Homo sapiens: one gene and its partners. The protein of the gene in region 3 purifies or fractionates together with the protein of the main gene of each other region. This does not show direct contact. Each region holds a gene or a part of one and is shown on either strand. Other genes may lie near its edges.

Region 1 (3,879 bases), on a different chromosome or scaffold from region 3:
AGGCTGGGTGCGGTGGCTCACGCCTGTAATCCCAGCACTTTGGGAGGCCAAGGGGGGCGGATCACAAGATCAAGAGATTGAGACCATCCTGGCCAACATGGTGAAACCCCATCTCTAATAAAAACATAAAAAATTAGCTGGGCATGGTGGTGCGCACCTGTAGCCCCAGCTACTTGGGAGGCTGAGGCAGGGGAATCACTGGAACCTGGGAGGCGGAGGTTGCAGTGAGCCGAGATCACGCCACTGCACCAGCCTGGTGACAGAGTGAGACTCCGTCTGAAAAATAAATAAATAAAATAAATACATACATACAAACAAAAGAAAAACATCAAAATTTTTGATAAAGCATCAACCAATCTTAGGGGTTAAATTGCACGCTCCTAAGTTTCTATGTTGAAGTCCTAAGCCCCAGTACCTCAGAATGTGACCTGATTTGGAGACTAGGTCTTTACAGAGGGAATCAGGTTAAGATGAGGTCATTACTGTGGGCCCTAATCCAACATGATTGGTGACCTTATAAAAGGCAGAAATTTATGACTGGGCACAGTGGCTCATGCCTGTAATCCCAGCACTTTGGGAGACTGAGGTGGGAGGATCACTTGGGCTCAGGCATTCGAGACCAGCGTGGGCAACATGGTGAAACCCCATCTCTACAAAAAATATAAAAATTAGCTGTGTGCAGTGGTGTGTGCCTGTAGTCCCAGCTGCTCAGGAGGCTAAGGCAGGAGAATCACTTGAGCGTGGGAGGGGGAGGATGCAGTGAGCCGAGATCGCACCACTGCACTCTAGCCTGGAGGATAGAAGTGAAACCCTGTCTCAAAATAATAATAGGCCGGGCGCGGTGGCTCACACCTGTAATCCTAGCACTTTGGGAGGCCAAGGCGGGTGGATCACCTGAGGTCAGGAATTCGAAACCAGCCTGCCCAACATGGCAAAACTCCATCTGTACTAAAAATACAAAATTATCCAGGCGTGGTGGCGCGTGCTTGTAATCCCAGCTACTTAGGAGTCTGAGGCAGGAGAATCGCTTGAACCTGGGAGGCAGAGGTTGCAGTGAGCTGAGATCGCGCCACCGCACTCCAGCCTGGGCAACGAGAGCAAAACTCTGTCTTGGAAAAAAAAAAAAATAATAATAATAATAATTAATAAAAAATAATAATGGAAGGAGAAATTTGGGCCAGGCACACAGAGAGGAAAGATGGTGTGAAAATGCAGTGAGAAGACGGCCATCTGCAAGCCAAGGAGAGGGGCCTGGTACAGATCCTCCCTCATAGCCCCAGAAGGAACCAACCCTGCCAATACTTTCACTTTGGACTCTGACTGCAGGCCATGAGACAGTCAAGTTCTGTTGCTGAAGCACCTGGTCAGTGGTACTTGGTTACAGCGGCCTCAGCAAACAAGTGCAGCCTCCCTCATATGGGAGTTTCCAAGTAGTCAGGAAGGGGTAGGGTTTCCAGGCAGGAAAGGACAGCGCACACGCTGCCAACACACACTTACCGCACGCATGTCTCCCGAGGCTTCTAGGGGCCCAGGCCTGCGCTGTGCAATGCTGGACCCAAAATGAATCAGCCTGGCCCTGGCCTCCAGTGGCCCTTGGTTAGGTGGGGAGAAAGACACACACACACACACACACACACACACACACACACACACACCCCTTGGTCAAGTGGGCAGAAAGACACACACACACACACACACACACACACACACACACACACACACACACACGGGCAGCTAGAATTTGGGAGACCTAGGCTGCAGTGGAGGCAGCTCCGGCCCTGGCTGAGCCCAGAGGAGTGACAGGTGTGCAGGACACAGGTACAAACTGAATCTCAAATTCATTATTTGTGCCAGGGACGTGTGTTGAGCCGCTATTCCAGGCTGACCCAGCGCCGGCCGCTATGGACACAGCAGGAATCAAATGATGACAGAATTCTGACTCTTGGAGGCCAGGCGGGGTGGCTCATGCCTGTAATCTCAGCAATTTGGGAGGCTGAGGCGGGTGGATCACCTGAGGTCAGGAGTTTGAGACCAGCCTGGCCAACATGGTGAAACCCTGTCTCTACTAAAGATACAAAATTAGCCAGGTATGGTGGCGGGCACCTGTAATCCCAGATACTCAGGAGGCTGAGGCAGGAGAATCGCTTGAACCTGGGAGGCAGAGGTTGCAGTGAGCCGAGATCGCGCCACTGCACTCCAGCCTGGGCGACAGAGTGAGACTCTGTCTCAAAAACAACAACAACCAAAAGAGTTCTGCCTCTTGGAGCACCCAGTCTAGAGAGACAGAGAACAGGCGACCAAGGGATGAACAAAGGAATACCAAGGACACAAATAACACAGAGGCTCCTTCACACAGGACAGCCGGGGCGGTGACACCCTGAGGAGGTGACATTCCAGGGGAGATGGAAGGTCCATGGACCAGGCAAAGAGCCCTGAGAAAGAATGTCACGGGAGAGCGGGGCGAACGGACAAAGGTCCCAAGGCTGCACGCCAGCAATTTCTAAAAATGCTGACGCAAGAAGGTCAGGGTGCATACGGGAAGGGCAGGGTTGGGCGGGTGTGGCCAAGGTCCACCCAGGCTCCGAGCAGACAAGAGGAACATGAATGCGGGCCTGAGGGCACTGGGGTGCCGGGGGCAGGCTCTGGGCAGAGGAGGGACGGGAAGAGCCTGGGTGTTGTGGCAGCTGGATACTGGTGCCCTAAAAGATATCCACATCCTGATCCCCGGAACCTGTGAATGCGTGACCTTTCCGGGCTAAGGGGTCCTGGCGGATGGGATTACATTAAAGACCTTAAGATGGGGGCCAAGGCTGGTGGCTCAGGCCTGTAATCCCAGCACTTTGGAAGGCCGAGACAGGAGGATCACTTGAAGTCAGGAGTTCAAGACCAGCCTGGCCAACATGGCAAAATCAAGTATCTACTAAAAATACAAAATTAGCCAGGTGTGGTGGCACACACCTGTAATCCCAGCTACTTGGGAGGCTGAGGCAGGAGAATTGCTTGAACCCAGGAGGCGGAGGTTGCAGTGAGCCGAGATCGCGCCACTGTAGTGCAGCCTGGGAGACAGAGCAAGATTCTGTCTCACCAAAAAAAAAAAAAAAAAAGGCCAGGCGCGGTGGCTCACACCTGTAATCCCAGCACTTTGGGAGGCCGAGGTGGGCGGATCACGAGGTTAGAGATCAAGACCATCCTGGCTAATACAGTGAAATTCCGTCTCTACTAAAAATACAAAAAATTAGCTGGGCATGGTGGCGGGCGCCTGTAGTCCCAGCTACTTGGGAGGCTGAGGCACAAGAATGGCGTGAATCCAGGAGGCGGAGCTTGCAGTGAGCCGAGATTGCACCACTGCACTCCAGCCTGGGTGACAGAGCGAGACTCTGTCTCAAAAAAAAAAAAAGAAAGATATTAGCTGAGCAAGGAAAAACAGTGTGACCTGATAAATCTCCCGATTTTATCGCTGTACTTATGCAAGAGTATCACACTGAAATGTGTAAGGGTGATGAGATGGTGACTGTGGTGAAGTCCCAAACGTGAGTGACAAAGCAAATGGAGCAAATGTTAACTAGAGAAGCCAGGTCAGGGGTGTTTGGGAGTTTTCTGTACTACTCTTACAACTTTTCTAAAAGTTTGAAGTTCTTTCAACTTTTTTTTTTTGAGATGGGATCTTGTTCTGTCGCCCAGGCTGGAGTACAGTGGCGCAGTCATGGCTCACTATAGCCTTGACATCCCAGGCTCAACGATCCTCCCACCTCAGCTTCCTAAGGAGGTGGGACCACAGGCATGCATTACCATGCCCAGCTTATTTTTTAATATTTTTTATAGAGACAGGGGTCTTGCTATGTTGCCCAGGCTGGTTTTGAACTTCTGGGCTCGAGTGAT
Region 2 (3,879 bases), on a different chromosome or scaffold from region 3:
AGAATTTATTTCTTCTCTATCCTTCAAAAGAGCTTATAATCCCAGTGGTCAGAAACAAGCAAAATACCGTTATGTGAGACAGCGGTCACGACTCACGAGGGAAAAGGGCAGAAGTGGGAGATGCTGGGGCTGCAGTTTCAACAGTGGAGTCAGAGAAGCTTCACAAGCTGACAGCTCAGCGAAGATTGAAGGAGGTGAGGACATGGGACCACGGACGTTGGCAAAGATTGAAGGTGAGGACATGGGACCATGGACATCTGTGGAAGGAGCGCTCCAGACAGAGGAAGGTGGCAGTAAAACCCTGGGCTCGGCATGCTGGCCTGGCTGAATGGCGGCAGAAAGGCCACTGGGCCCAGCACCCTACAGGGCAAAGGGCCTGGGAGCCACTGTAACGACCCTGGCCTTCATCCCCAGGTCAGGAAACTCCTAGAACAAAAAGACGACAGGATCTGGCGCTGGGGCAGCCGGGGTGGGCATGAGCAGAGCAGGAGCAGCCAGAAGGCTATTCAATATTCCAGAGAGAGATGCGACTTGAGCCGCAGGGGCAGAGGTGGGAAGAGCAGCAGCAGCTGGGCCTGGGCATGTCCTGACGCCAGGGTGGAGGGGCAGACGGGCTGGGCATGAGCTGTGACAACAGAGGCATCAAGGCCAACCTGAAGGTTCTGGCCTGACCAAGGGAGATGGAGGGGCTGCCCTTCCCGAAGAGAAGGGAGACTGGTAGAATTGGTTTGGGCAGCAGGTGTTAAGATGATAAGCTCAGATCTAAATATGCCAAGGAGCTGGGCATGGTGGCTCACACCTGTTATTCCAACACTTTTGGACGCCCAGGAGGGAGGAATGCTTGAGCCCAAGAGATGGAGACCAGCCTAGACAACGGAGCTAGAACCTATCTCTACAAATAAAAAAATTAGCCAGACACGGAAGCAGGCGCCCGTGGTCCCAGTTACCCGGGAGGCTGAGGCAGGAAGATCACCTGAGCCCAGGAGGTCAAGGCTGAAGTGAGCTGTGATCATGCCACTGCACTCCCGCCTGGGTGCCAGAGTGAGATCCCATCTCTAAAAATAATAATAATTTTAATAATAATAATTTTAATGCCAAAGTGCCTTGCCAAGTGGGTATGTTTTACAGGCTACTGGATACAGGGCTCTGGGGTTGGGAAGATACCTGCCTGGGAGTCATCAGTATACACAGAGGGTCCTATCAGTCCACTAGACCCTGTGAGAGCACCAAGGCAGCGGTGCTCACAGCAACACCCAGGGCCAAGGACTGAGCCCGGGGGGAAACGCGAGGATGGCGCTCTAGGAGCCCGAGGGGGTGAGCTGTGTTCCAGCCCTGTGAGAGGTCGAGATGGGCAGCAAGAATCCATCATGGGTCTCAGCAGTGTCTTGGGGTTACCTGGTGCCCTGACTATAGCACTGTGATGGGGGTAAAACCAGATGAGAAGCAATTCCAGAGACCCCAAGGCAGGGCTGGCTCAGACAGAGGGGACCTGTGGGTCCCGCACACAGTTAACCAGAAGACGGCGCGTGTGCCTCTTCGTGGATAACCAGAAGACGGCGCGTGTGCCTCTTCGTGGATAACCAGAAGACGGCGCGTGTGCCTCTTCGTGGATAACCAGAAGACGGCACATGCCTCTTCAGGTCACAGGGATGGGGCAGGGGGTCTGGTGCATGAACAAAGGCTGGCCTTGGGCGGGGCACAAATGACATATCTCCAGTAAAAGAAAGGAAACAGTGAGCACAAGCAGGCAGGCGACAGACAGGGCCAAGCCGCGGGCAGAGCACAAGGACGGGGCAGGCATGGGGGGCTCATGGAGAAGGAGGGGCATATGGAACAGTACCTGGGGTACAGGGTGCTAAAATGCCTCAAGAAGCATGGCTATGCTGCCAGGCAGTACTCGACACCCACTCCAGGCAGCAACCGGGTTCCTCAGCAGATAGGTGCGGCTTCTGTGGCCAGTGCAGGGGCCTTGCACAGCGGGGTTTCCATGCTGGAATGTTCTAGAACAATGGGAAGCAGAGAAGGGCAGGGGATGGGGCTACATCGCGAGGGGTGGAGGCAAGGGAGAAAGGAAACGCAAGAGGCTGACCACAGCCAGATGAGAGCACAGGCCATGAGACCAAGACATACTCTAGAATGCGGCAAGTGGACAAAAGTGAGATGCGAAGTTTAGGAATTTCCCAGACAGACGGGGGAGAAATTGGTTCGGCCAACAGCCATTGACTGACTCCTGTGCCAGGCACTCGTGGGTGTGACGTGAACGACGACAAAGGACGGCCCGTGCCCTCGCAGAGCAGACGCTCTAAAGGAGACGCCCAACCAAAGCACAGAGAGATGCAGGCGACCGCGTCAGACTGTGACGAGTGCTGCAAAGGAAACCAGGCAGGCAAGGGACAAAGGGCAAAAGGAACCACATCCTAATTTTATTTAGGGCAGCAATGAGCCCACACTCAAGCGCGTGCTCTCTCTCTATATGTATGTATACACACACACATACGCACGTACTTTTTCAGGCTCCTCCAAAGCTAGAAATGGCCAGCCCCGTGCTCTGGGGAATGAGCTGAAGTGTAAACGCTTGGGAGGATGTCCACTAAGGCCCCCACGCAGGGAGCTGGCCACGCAGGGCGGCACTGATTCCCCCTTACCCTCCTCCTGGCCGCGAAGGCCGCAGCCCCAGCAGCCATCGTGGACTCAAGGATAAACGTGAGAAACAGAAATCGAGAAAACCTCCGAGTTCTCGGCTGTCACTGAACAAGTGCCGGGGGACATCGCTGTCAACTGACTTGGGAAGGGTGGCTTAGTAAGGCAGGTCTGGGGCTCGTCTGGGGCCCCAAGGCCGAGATGCGGCATTTGGTTTTGCGCCTGGTATCGTATCTTTGAACTGCCTTCCAGACATGCGAAGAGAGCTCCGGGAGGTGACTACACGGGATGGCCTCAGGGAGAGAGGCCTGGGGAGGGCAGCAGTGTGGGGACAGGAGCTTGGAGACCGTCTGTGAAGCCACACAACCTCTGGAGGGCTGGCTGGTGACATAAAACAAAAGGCCTCCAAGACTAGAGAAGACAGCATAGGCAAGTGAGGACATGCAGCGAGGGGTGGGGAGAGCCCAGAGGATGGTGTCACGGGAGCCGAGTGATGGGAGCGTCTCGAGGCAGTGGGGTCCGCTGTGGACTGACCGCTTTCAGGAGCATCATCCTGTCCTCAAGAGGAACATCTGGGTGGAGTGTTGGGGGGCAAAAATCTGATTTAGGTAAAACAGGAAGAGAGACATGAAGGGGCAGAGACAGGGAGTAGTAGCTGGAGGAGGACGGGGGCAAGGAAGGGGTTTTCACGAGAGGAAGACTCAGAGCCACGTGCACACCAGGGAGCTGCACAGCCAATGGGAAAACCGACCAACAGAGAGAGAACCAAGTGCAGGAGCAGCCACAAGGCAAAGGGCACAGCACAGGTGAGGGGGGCACAGCGCAAGTGAGGGAGGCACAGGCACGGGTGAGGGGGGCACAGGCACGGGTGAGGAACGGCACAGGCATGGGTGAGGGGTACAGGTGAGGAATGGCATGGGTGACGGCTGCACAGGCACAGGTGAGGGGGGCACAGGTGCGGGTGGGGGGGCACAGGTGAGGGTAGCATAGGTGAGGTGCAGATGTAGGTGGGGGGCGCACGTGAAGGTGGTGCAGGAGCAGGTGAGGGAGGAGCAGGTGAGGGAGGAGCAGGTGAGGGGGGCACAGGCACAGGTGGGGGGCACAGGTGAGGGCAGCACAGGTGAGGGCAGTGCAGACGTGGGTGAGGGGGGCACAGGTGCGGGTGGGGGGGCACAGGTGAGGGTAGCATAGGTGAGGTGCAGATGTAGGTGGGGGGCGCACGTGAAGGTGGTGCAGGAG
Region 3 (3,712 bases):
GGATGGAGAGTACATACACCTGGACCACTGCAGGCATGGCACAGGGAAGAGAGAATCCAGACCCAAATCACCTCCAACCCACACCTGCTGATTCTTCCGTGCTTTTGTAGCCTGACCCTTCGCTGCCGTCACTCCAACTCCTGTGTGAGGATGTTGAGCTCCTGGGAAAACCGAAGGGAGGGCAGGAGAGACAATACTGTGACCAAAGGCTGAGACTGTGTCATCACTTGGGAATGAAAGCATCAAATGCCACCCCAGGTGGGATTGTTGGCTTCAAGGTTTTTTTCTCCCTTTCCTTTCTCCCTTTTCTCTTTTCCTTTATCGAGGTCTGCTATTTACTCAGCAACTCTTCAAAGTCTGTGGTTCTGTGGGACACAATGTGCTAAATGATGCCTGTAAGGGAGGAGGTCGATGTACCTCCACTTCCAAGAAGCTTGACTTTCCGGGGAAGAAAAGACAAGTGAAGCGTAGACATTGCGACTTTTGGCTTCCTGTTTCTGTGAGTTGCAAGGAATCCTGTCCACCTGGCCCTGGAGCCGCCTTCTGGGACCTCATCCTTGCCCCCTGCTGCAGGTGCCATCTCAATTAGTCCTGCTGTCCCTCCTCCCCCTTTCAGATTCCAGCACAATTCTGGAACAGCTCTCCCACCTGGCCGGGGTGAGACTGAGGCTCCACCCTCAAGCACTTGGGCACTGATCCTTTGTGAAGGATGGGGATAGCAAGACAGCGTCTGCAGGGGCCCCTAGAGGGCCGTGGGGATGGCTAGAAAACAGGAATGAACAGACTCACTTCAGCTTATGCCCAGACTCACTTCAGCTTATGCCCAGAAACAAAGAAACCAAGGAGAAGCAAATTCCATAAGTGCTTTTATTTTATTGGAGATGAGCAGGGGAGGCACTGAAAAGTGGGGATAGTGCTGGAAACATGCTGACAGGGCCTGGATTGAGCCCACACAGCAAGGGGCGGGAGCAGGACTCTAACTCCCAATGTTGGGTTTCCCTCTATCGTGCTCTAGCCCCACTGCAACCTAGGGCTTGGAGGATTAGGGAAGCCAGCTGGGATGTTCCAAGAAGAGCCAGGAGGGCGGAGGACTCCAGGAGGAAATGGGTTATTGATACCTGGGTATAGATGAATATTCCCCCAGCTGCCTCCTGGATACCGATTAATATTCCCCCAGCTGCCTCCTGGATACCGATTAATATTTCCCCAGCTGCCTCCTGGATACCGATTAATATTTCCCCAGCTGGTACCTGGGGGTTGATTATTGATACCCCAGATTCCCTCAGGGTGTGGCATGGGCCTCGTTCCCCAACCAGTCCCAGGGCCTCCACCTCCCCAGGACACACTGGGATTCAGGGTACCCCAGGGGTGATCAGGCAGAACCCTGTGGATGAGAGACCAGGGAGGGCGTTGGGAAAGGATTTTTCCCCCGGCTCCCAGTGAATTAGAACGGGGCAGTCGTCTGGACTCCGAGTCCTGGTGGAGGAGTGAAGCCTTGGGTGAGAGGCCTGTGGCATCGGGAGAAGACTCCCCAGGCAAAGGGCCACTGCCCGGAGCGAGGGCCGCAGCACTGGAGAGGTAAGAGAGTTCTTCAGGCAGCGCTTCCCCCAGGCGGTCCTCAGCCGCAGCAGCCATCATCTGCCAAGGATCCTCAGGGGGCCAGGAATCCATGGCAGGCAGCCCCCACGATGGAGGCCACCTCTGCACTGCAGAACCTCCTGCAGGTGGGAAGCCATCTGATGCAGGCACGCTGAGCTTCAGAGGAACCCTTGCCAAGTCATTAGACCTAGGGTCCAGAGCGGGCTGCGGATGTTCAGAGTTAGAGGGGCCAGTGGAGGAAGGTTGTCCGAGCTGAGGCAAGTTGGTCCCCAAGTTTTGGGAAACTTTCTCCTCCACAACACCGATGCTCCGGGCAAAGAGGCCTGAGGGAAAGGGAAGATAAAGCAACCAGTGGTCTCCAGTCCCCGAGTCCCCAGTTCCCTTTGCTTCCCCTATGCCTATTCTTCCTTTTCCCTCAGGGACCTAAATGTGTACCCTCCTGCCTTTACCCCTTTCCTTAATTCCTGTTTCCTGGGGGACCTCCAGTCCCTCCTGCCCAAGGGCATCACGGCCTCCATACCTGGGAGATGAAGACAGACCAGGAGCAGGCCCAGAGGAGCGCAGCTCCCTGCCACGCGGCCCTGCATCCTGCTCAGCACCCGATCTCCCTCAGCCCCAAGACAGCCAGCCCTTTATCCTGGTAGTGGGGTGGGGGACAGCAGAAACAGGCTGGGCTAGTGGTTGTGAAGACAATAAACCTCCACATTCCACCCTCATTCCTAATGTGGTCTGTGGCAACAGGTGTCACTTGAATGAATGTCCCAGAGGAAGCTGGGTGTCTCCCGCCCTGGCTCCTTTCCTTGACCTCCCTGCCCCTTCTTGGCCCAGGTGTCCTGGCTCACAGCTCATCCCTGGTTGCCAGCCTCCCCAGCCCTGCTTCTCTATACACAAGGACCTCCACCCTGGGGTCCCACTCTCTTAATTGCCTCTCTCAGCAACAGAAACACTTGTTTCTTTTTGGGAGCTGGATTGTTTCCTCCCAGCACCCCTTTCTCATGCATCCTCATATCTCCTTCACCTTGGCCCCAACCTGCAGGAGGTTCTGGGGTGCAGAAGTGGCCCCATCTGAGGAGCTGCTCCTACATGAGACCCTGGATCTAGCTAGGGAAATGGACCTGGATGCCATCCTTATGAGATACTGACTAATTCCTGCTGCTGCAGTGACAAATTACCATGAACCGAATGGCTTACAACAACATGGATTTATTACTTTACAGTTTTGGAGATCAGAAGTCTAAAACAGGTCTCAGTGGATTAAAATAAAGGTGTCAGCAGGGCTGTGATTCTTTCTGGGGGCCTCAGGGGAAAATCCCTTTCCCTGCTTTTTCACCTTCTAGAGGCATCCTGTGTTCTTTGGCTCATGGTCCCCTTCCTCCATCTCCAAAGCCAAAATCAGCCATTTCTTACACTGTATCACTCAGACTTCCTCTTCTGCCTCCCATGTCCACATTAAGGGACCTGGTGACTACACTGGACCCACCTGAATAATCCATGATAATCTCTGTGAAGTCAGCCGAATAGCAACCTTAATCCCATCTGGAACCTTAATTTCCCTTTGCCATGTAACCTAATTCCTACGTTCCAGGGATTAGGATGTGGACATCTTTGATGGTGTTGGGGTTGAAGACATCATTCTGCCTGCTACTGGTGGTCAGATGTGCCATAGAGTATAAGAAACCTTGGGAGAAAGTGGCTATTTCCAAGTAACAGTAGAGGAGAGCCTTTAAATGCTGCTGTCAAATGGCCAGGACTTGATCCTTGTTGAAGCTGGGCGATGAGAATGTAGAGATTCATTAACAGTTTGTTGGCTTTTAAATATGTTTGCAAATTTTATTATAAAAATGCAATGGCTTTGTTCTCTCCATGGCTTCCGGGAGGCCCCAGGAGTAGGCTTCCCTGGCTGCCCAAGGTCTAAACATGAGCTGTTGGCTGATTCTACTGCTGTGTCCTCCCCACCTGCCCCTGCTGGCTTAACCACTGGAGGAGTGAAGAGCTCCTCTCCAGAACTGGCAGTGGATGGAGCCCAGAGGCCTTTTTGGATGACATGCATGAGTTTTACACAAGCTTTTAATTTGGAGCACAGCAGGAGACTCGAGGAAACACCACATCAGAG
Region 4 (3,879 bases), on a different chromosome or scaffold from region 3:
TGACATATACATAATTTGATATATACATAGTTTATATGTAGATGCCACCAGCTGAAAGGTAATACAAATGGAATAAACCTCTAATATTAATATGCTTACATTTTTTCACCAATGCTACCCGAACTGAAAATATGTTAACACTCAAGATAAAAGCCCTGCTTCCTTTCTATATAATCATGAAAAGACAGTAACACATCTGAAATATTGTAAGATTATTTCTCTGTAGAATCAGATCTTAACTGTACATATGGTAAAAACAGTAGTAATTTTTGAATCTTAATCCCTAATGTTACTTATTTTCTCATTACACTTTAATAAACAAAAAGGCAAACTACAACATACTAACCTTAATAAAAATGGATCTTAACTGTAGAGCCACCAGCTTTCTTGAAGGCAATGAATACACTATAAAAACAAGAAGAAAATGAAATCATATGACAGTGAAGTTATACAAGTTGAAATTATTATGATAAACAAAAATTGAATTATAATACCTTTTGCATTTAAATGTTTTCAATAATTAAAATACGGAACATATATGACATCTGGTTAAAATAAGACCTTTTAGAAGTACCTTAAAATAAGCCAGTGGGCTTTATTCTATGGAACAGATTCATTTCTGAAAAGTTAACTGTAAGAAAATATAAAAAATTATTTTTCTTTTGACTTTAACTGCAAAACCAGAGAAGTATTCCCCTGAAAATTTCTGGTATTATGACAAATAAAATCATCCTTAAGAAAACTGAACTTTTTGGCTTTTGATATTCTCCCCTCTTTGTCTCCAGAGAACAGCAACACTCATTGGGATTAACAGAAAAAACAGTAAAAGGTAGGAGAATGTTAGCCATGTAATAAAATCCTGAAATAGGTACATGTGTGTTCCTTAGAACTTTTTAAAGGATCTGAAATAACATAAAATGTCATGTGAGTCAATGTGTTTGTATTTTTTACTGGGAAAAGGATCCATAGCTTTCATCAGGTTCTACAAGGGGCACACTCTAGAAATGCTTAAGGCTTCCCTGCCCAACTTCATTTCTAAGAATGAGAAGCAGCTGGGCATGGTGGCTCACGCCTGTAATCCCAGCACCTTGGGAGGCTGAGGCAGGTGGATCACAAGGTCAGGAGATCAAGATCATCCTAGCTAACATGGTGAATGAAACCCCGTCTCTACTAAAAAATAAAAAAATTAGCCAGGCTTGGCGGCGGGCACCTGTAGTCCTAGCTACTCAGGAGGCTGAGGCAGGAGAACGGCGTGAACCCGGGGGGCGGAGCTTGCAGTGAGCAGAGATCGCGCCACTGCACTCCAGCTTGGGCAACAGAACAAGACTCCATCTCAAAAAAAAAAAAAAAAAAAAAGAATGAGAAGCTCCTGAGTCAGGGATAAAATACTCTCTAAGGACACAGGATTACTACTGTGCTAAGGGGTAAGTGTTGGTTACCATAAACAGATTGCAAATAACAGCAAATCCTTTGGTGGATCAGGTCTCTACTGTTACAGGTCTTTCGGAAATTGTCTCCTATGGCTGGCGTGATGTGGTGTGACTGGGGGGTATGCTGAACTCAGCAAATCTAGCAAGCACCAGGTATGTTCAGTCCAAAGGAAGTTTAGGAATTAGGGAAAAGGGTATAAATTTAGGGAAAAGAGACTAAGGCAAAGATTACTCAGCCTCTAACCTATCTGTGACAAACACATGTAGTCCAATTCAACTGACCTAGGTTTGAAAAGAATGTATCTGTAGGGGGTGGACAGGCTAAGCTTTTTAAAATGTAAGCTACCACTTCTTCGGTGATAGCAATACTCTCCTCATCAGCGTATCATACAATTCTTTTTTTTTGAGACAGAGTCTCGCTCTGTCACCCAGGCTGAAGTGCAGTGGTGCGATATCGGCTCACTCCAACTTCTGCCTCCCAGGTTCAAGTGATTCTTGTGTGTCAGCCTCTCAAGTAGCTGGGATTACAGGAGCACACCACCACGCCTGGCTAATTTTTGTTTTTTGTTTGTTTTTTAAGACAGAGTCTTGCTCTATCACCCAGACTGGAGTACAATGGTGTGATCTCGGGTCACTGCAACCTCTACCTCCTGGGTTCAAGCGATTCTCCTGTCTCAGCCTCCTGAGTAGCTGGGATTTCAGATGCACACCGTCACAACGGGTTAATTTTTTGTATTTTAGTAGAGACAGAGTTTCATCATGTTACCCAGGCTGGTCTCGAACTCCTGAGCTCAGGCAATCCACCCGTCTTGGCCTCCCAAAGCGCTAGGATTACTAGCATGGGCCACCGTGCCCGGCCTATGCAATTCTTTTTGTTGTTAGGTTCCTGTTTCCTAGTACTTTTTTCTTCTGATGTGATACATTACGAAAGCAACAACACCTTTTCTGTATTCTGCCCCAAAACATTAACCTTTTATCTAATCAAGCCTTTAGAGCTAACTCCAGTTACAGAAAACACAGGGGCTAGAACAACAAGCCAAGTGACAAGAGGACGTAATCAGACAAATCAGAAGGTGGGACATTGTACAAAACAATACACCTAGTCTTTTCTTCAATAAATCGGTTTGTGATGAAAAAAAAGGGACTGCTCTAGAGTAAAAGAGATTTCAAGGGCACAGCACAACAATCGGATATATGAGGGGTCTTCAAAAAGTTCACAGGAAATGTGTACTTACGAAAACATTTTGCACCAAAATAAACTTGTACTGACTTGCTGTAACACGCCTGAAAAGGATCTGGTTTGAGGCACTAAGAAGGATAAGGCATTAAGTGCCCCTATCACAGCAACATGAATTCTGCTTAAACTGAAGCAAGAACATCAAATTTATGGTGAAGCTTGGGTAGATAAATGGTGAAATCACAGATGCTTTAAAAGGGGCGGGCGTGGTGGCTCACACCTGTAATCCCAGCACTTTGGGAAGCTGAGGCGGGCAGATCATGAGGTCAGCAGATGGAGACCATCCTGGCTAACACAGTGAAACCCCGTCTTACTAAAAATACAAAAAAAGTAGCCGGGCGTGATGGCGGGTGTCTGTAGTCCCAGCTACTTGGGAGGCTGAGGCGGAAGAATGGCGTGAACCCGGGAGGCAGAGCTTGCAGTGAGCCGAGATCGTGCCACCGCACTCCAGACTGGGCGACAGAGCAAGACTCCATCTCAAAAAAAAAAAAAAAAGTTTATGAGGGCTGGGCGTGGTGGCTCATACCTGTAATTCCGGCACTTTGGGAGGCTGAGGCGGGTGAACTGCCTGAGGTCAGGAGTTCAAGACCCACCTGGCCAACATGGTGAAACCCTGTCTCTACTAAAAATACAAAAATTAGGCCAGGCGTGGTGGCTCACGCCTGTAATCCCAGCACTCTGGAAGGCCAAGGTGGTTGGATCACCTGAGGTCAGGAGTTCAACACCAGCCTGACTTGCATGGTGAAACCTCATCTCTACTAAAAATACAAAATATTAGCTGGGCGTGGGGGCGTGGACCTGTAATCCCAACTACTCCAGAGGCTGAGGCAAGAGAATTGCTTGAACCCGGGAGGTGGAGGTTGCAGTGAACCAAAATCGTGGCATTGCACTACAGCCTGGGCAACAAGAGCAAAACTCTCTGTCAAAAAAAAAAAAAAATACAAGAATTAGCTGGGTGTGTGGTGAGTGCCTACAATCCCAGCTTCTTGGGAGGCTGAGGCAGGAGCATCTCTTGAACCCAGGAGGCAGAGGTTGCAGTGAGCCGAGATCCCGCCACCACACTCCAGCCTGTGTGACGGAGTGAGACTCCATCTCAAATCGGGCGCGGTGGCTCACGCCTGTAATCCCAGCACTTTGGAGGCTGAGGCAGGCAGATCACGAGGTCAGGAGATTGAGACCATCCTGGCTAACATGGTGCAACCCCGTCTCTAC

The links.
Region 1: the proteins of C6orf15 (region 3) and NUCB1 purify together in Homo sapiens (affinity purification with mass spectrometry; one large-scale study listed by BioGRID and IntAct). This does not show direct contact.
Region 2: the proteins of C6orf15 (region 3) and MAEA purify together in Homo sapiens (affinity purification with mass spectrometry; one large-scale study listed by BioGRID and IntAct). This does not show direct contact.
Region 4: the proteins of C6orf15 (region 3) and PSMG2 purify together in Homo sapiens (affinity purification with mass spectrometry; one large-scale study listed by BioGRID and IntAct). This does not show direct contact.

What each region holds. Positions count from the first base shown.
Region 1 is NC_000019.10:48,906,498-48,910,376, reverse strand, and holds part of NUCB1 (nucleobindin-1 precursor), read right to left. Parts: intron 1-3,879. UniProt on the Homo sapiens protein: Major calcium-binding protein of the Golgi which may have a role in calcium homeostasis. Acts as a non-receptor guanine nucleotide exchange factor which binds to and activates alpha subunits of guanine nucleotide-binding proteins (G proteins).
Region 2 is NC_000004.12:1,296,077-1,299,955, reverse strand, and holds part of MAEA (E3 ubiquitin-protein transferase MAEA), read right to left. Parts: intron 1,983-3,879; exon of another isoform or gene 1,841-1,982; intron 1-1,840.
Region 3 is NC_000006.12:31,110,370-31,114,081, forward strand, and holds C6orf15 (uncharacterized protein C6orf15 precursor), read right to left. Parts: upstream 2,207-3,712; 5' UTR 2,187-2,206; coding exon 2,120-2,186; intron 1,923-2,119; coding exon 1,012-1,922; 3' UTR 854-1,011; downstream 1-853.
Region 4 is NC_000018.10:12,709,228-12,713,106, reverse strand, and holds part of PSMG2 (proteasome assembly chaperone 2), read right to left. Parts: intron 406-3,879; coding exon 347-405; intron 1-346. UniProt on the Homo sapiens protein: Chaperone protein which promotes assembly of the 20S proteasome as part of a heterodimer with PSMG1.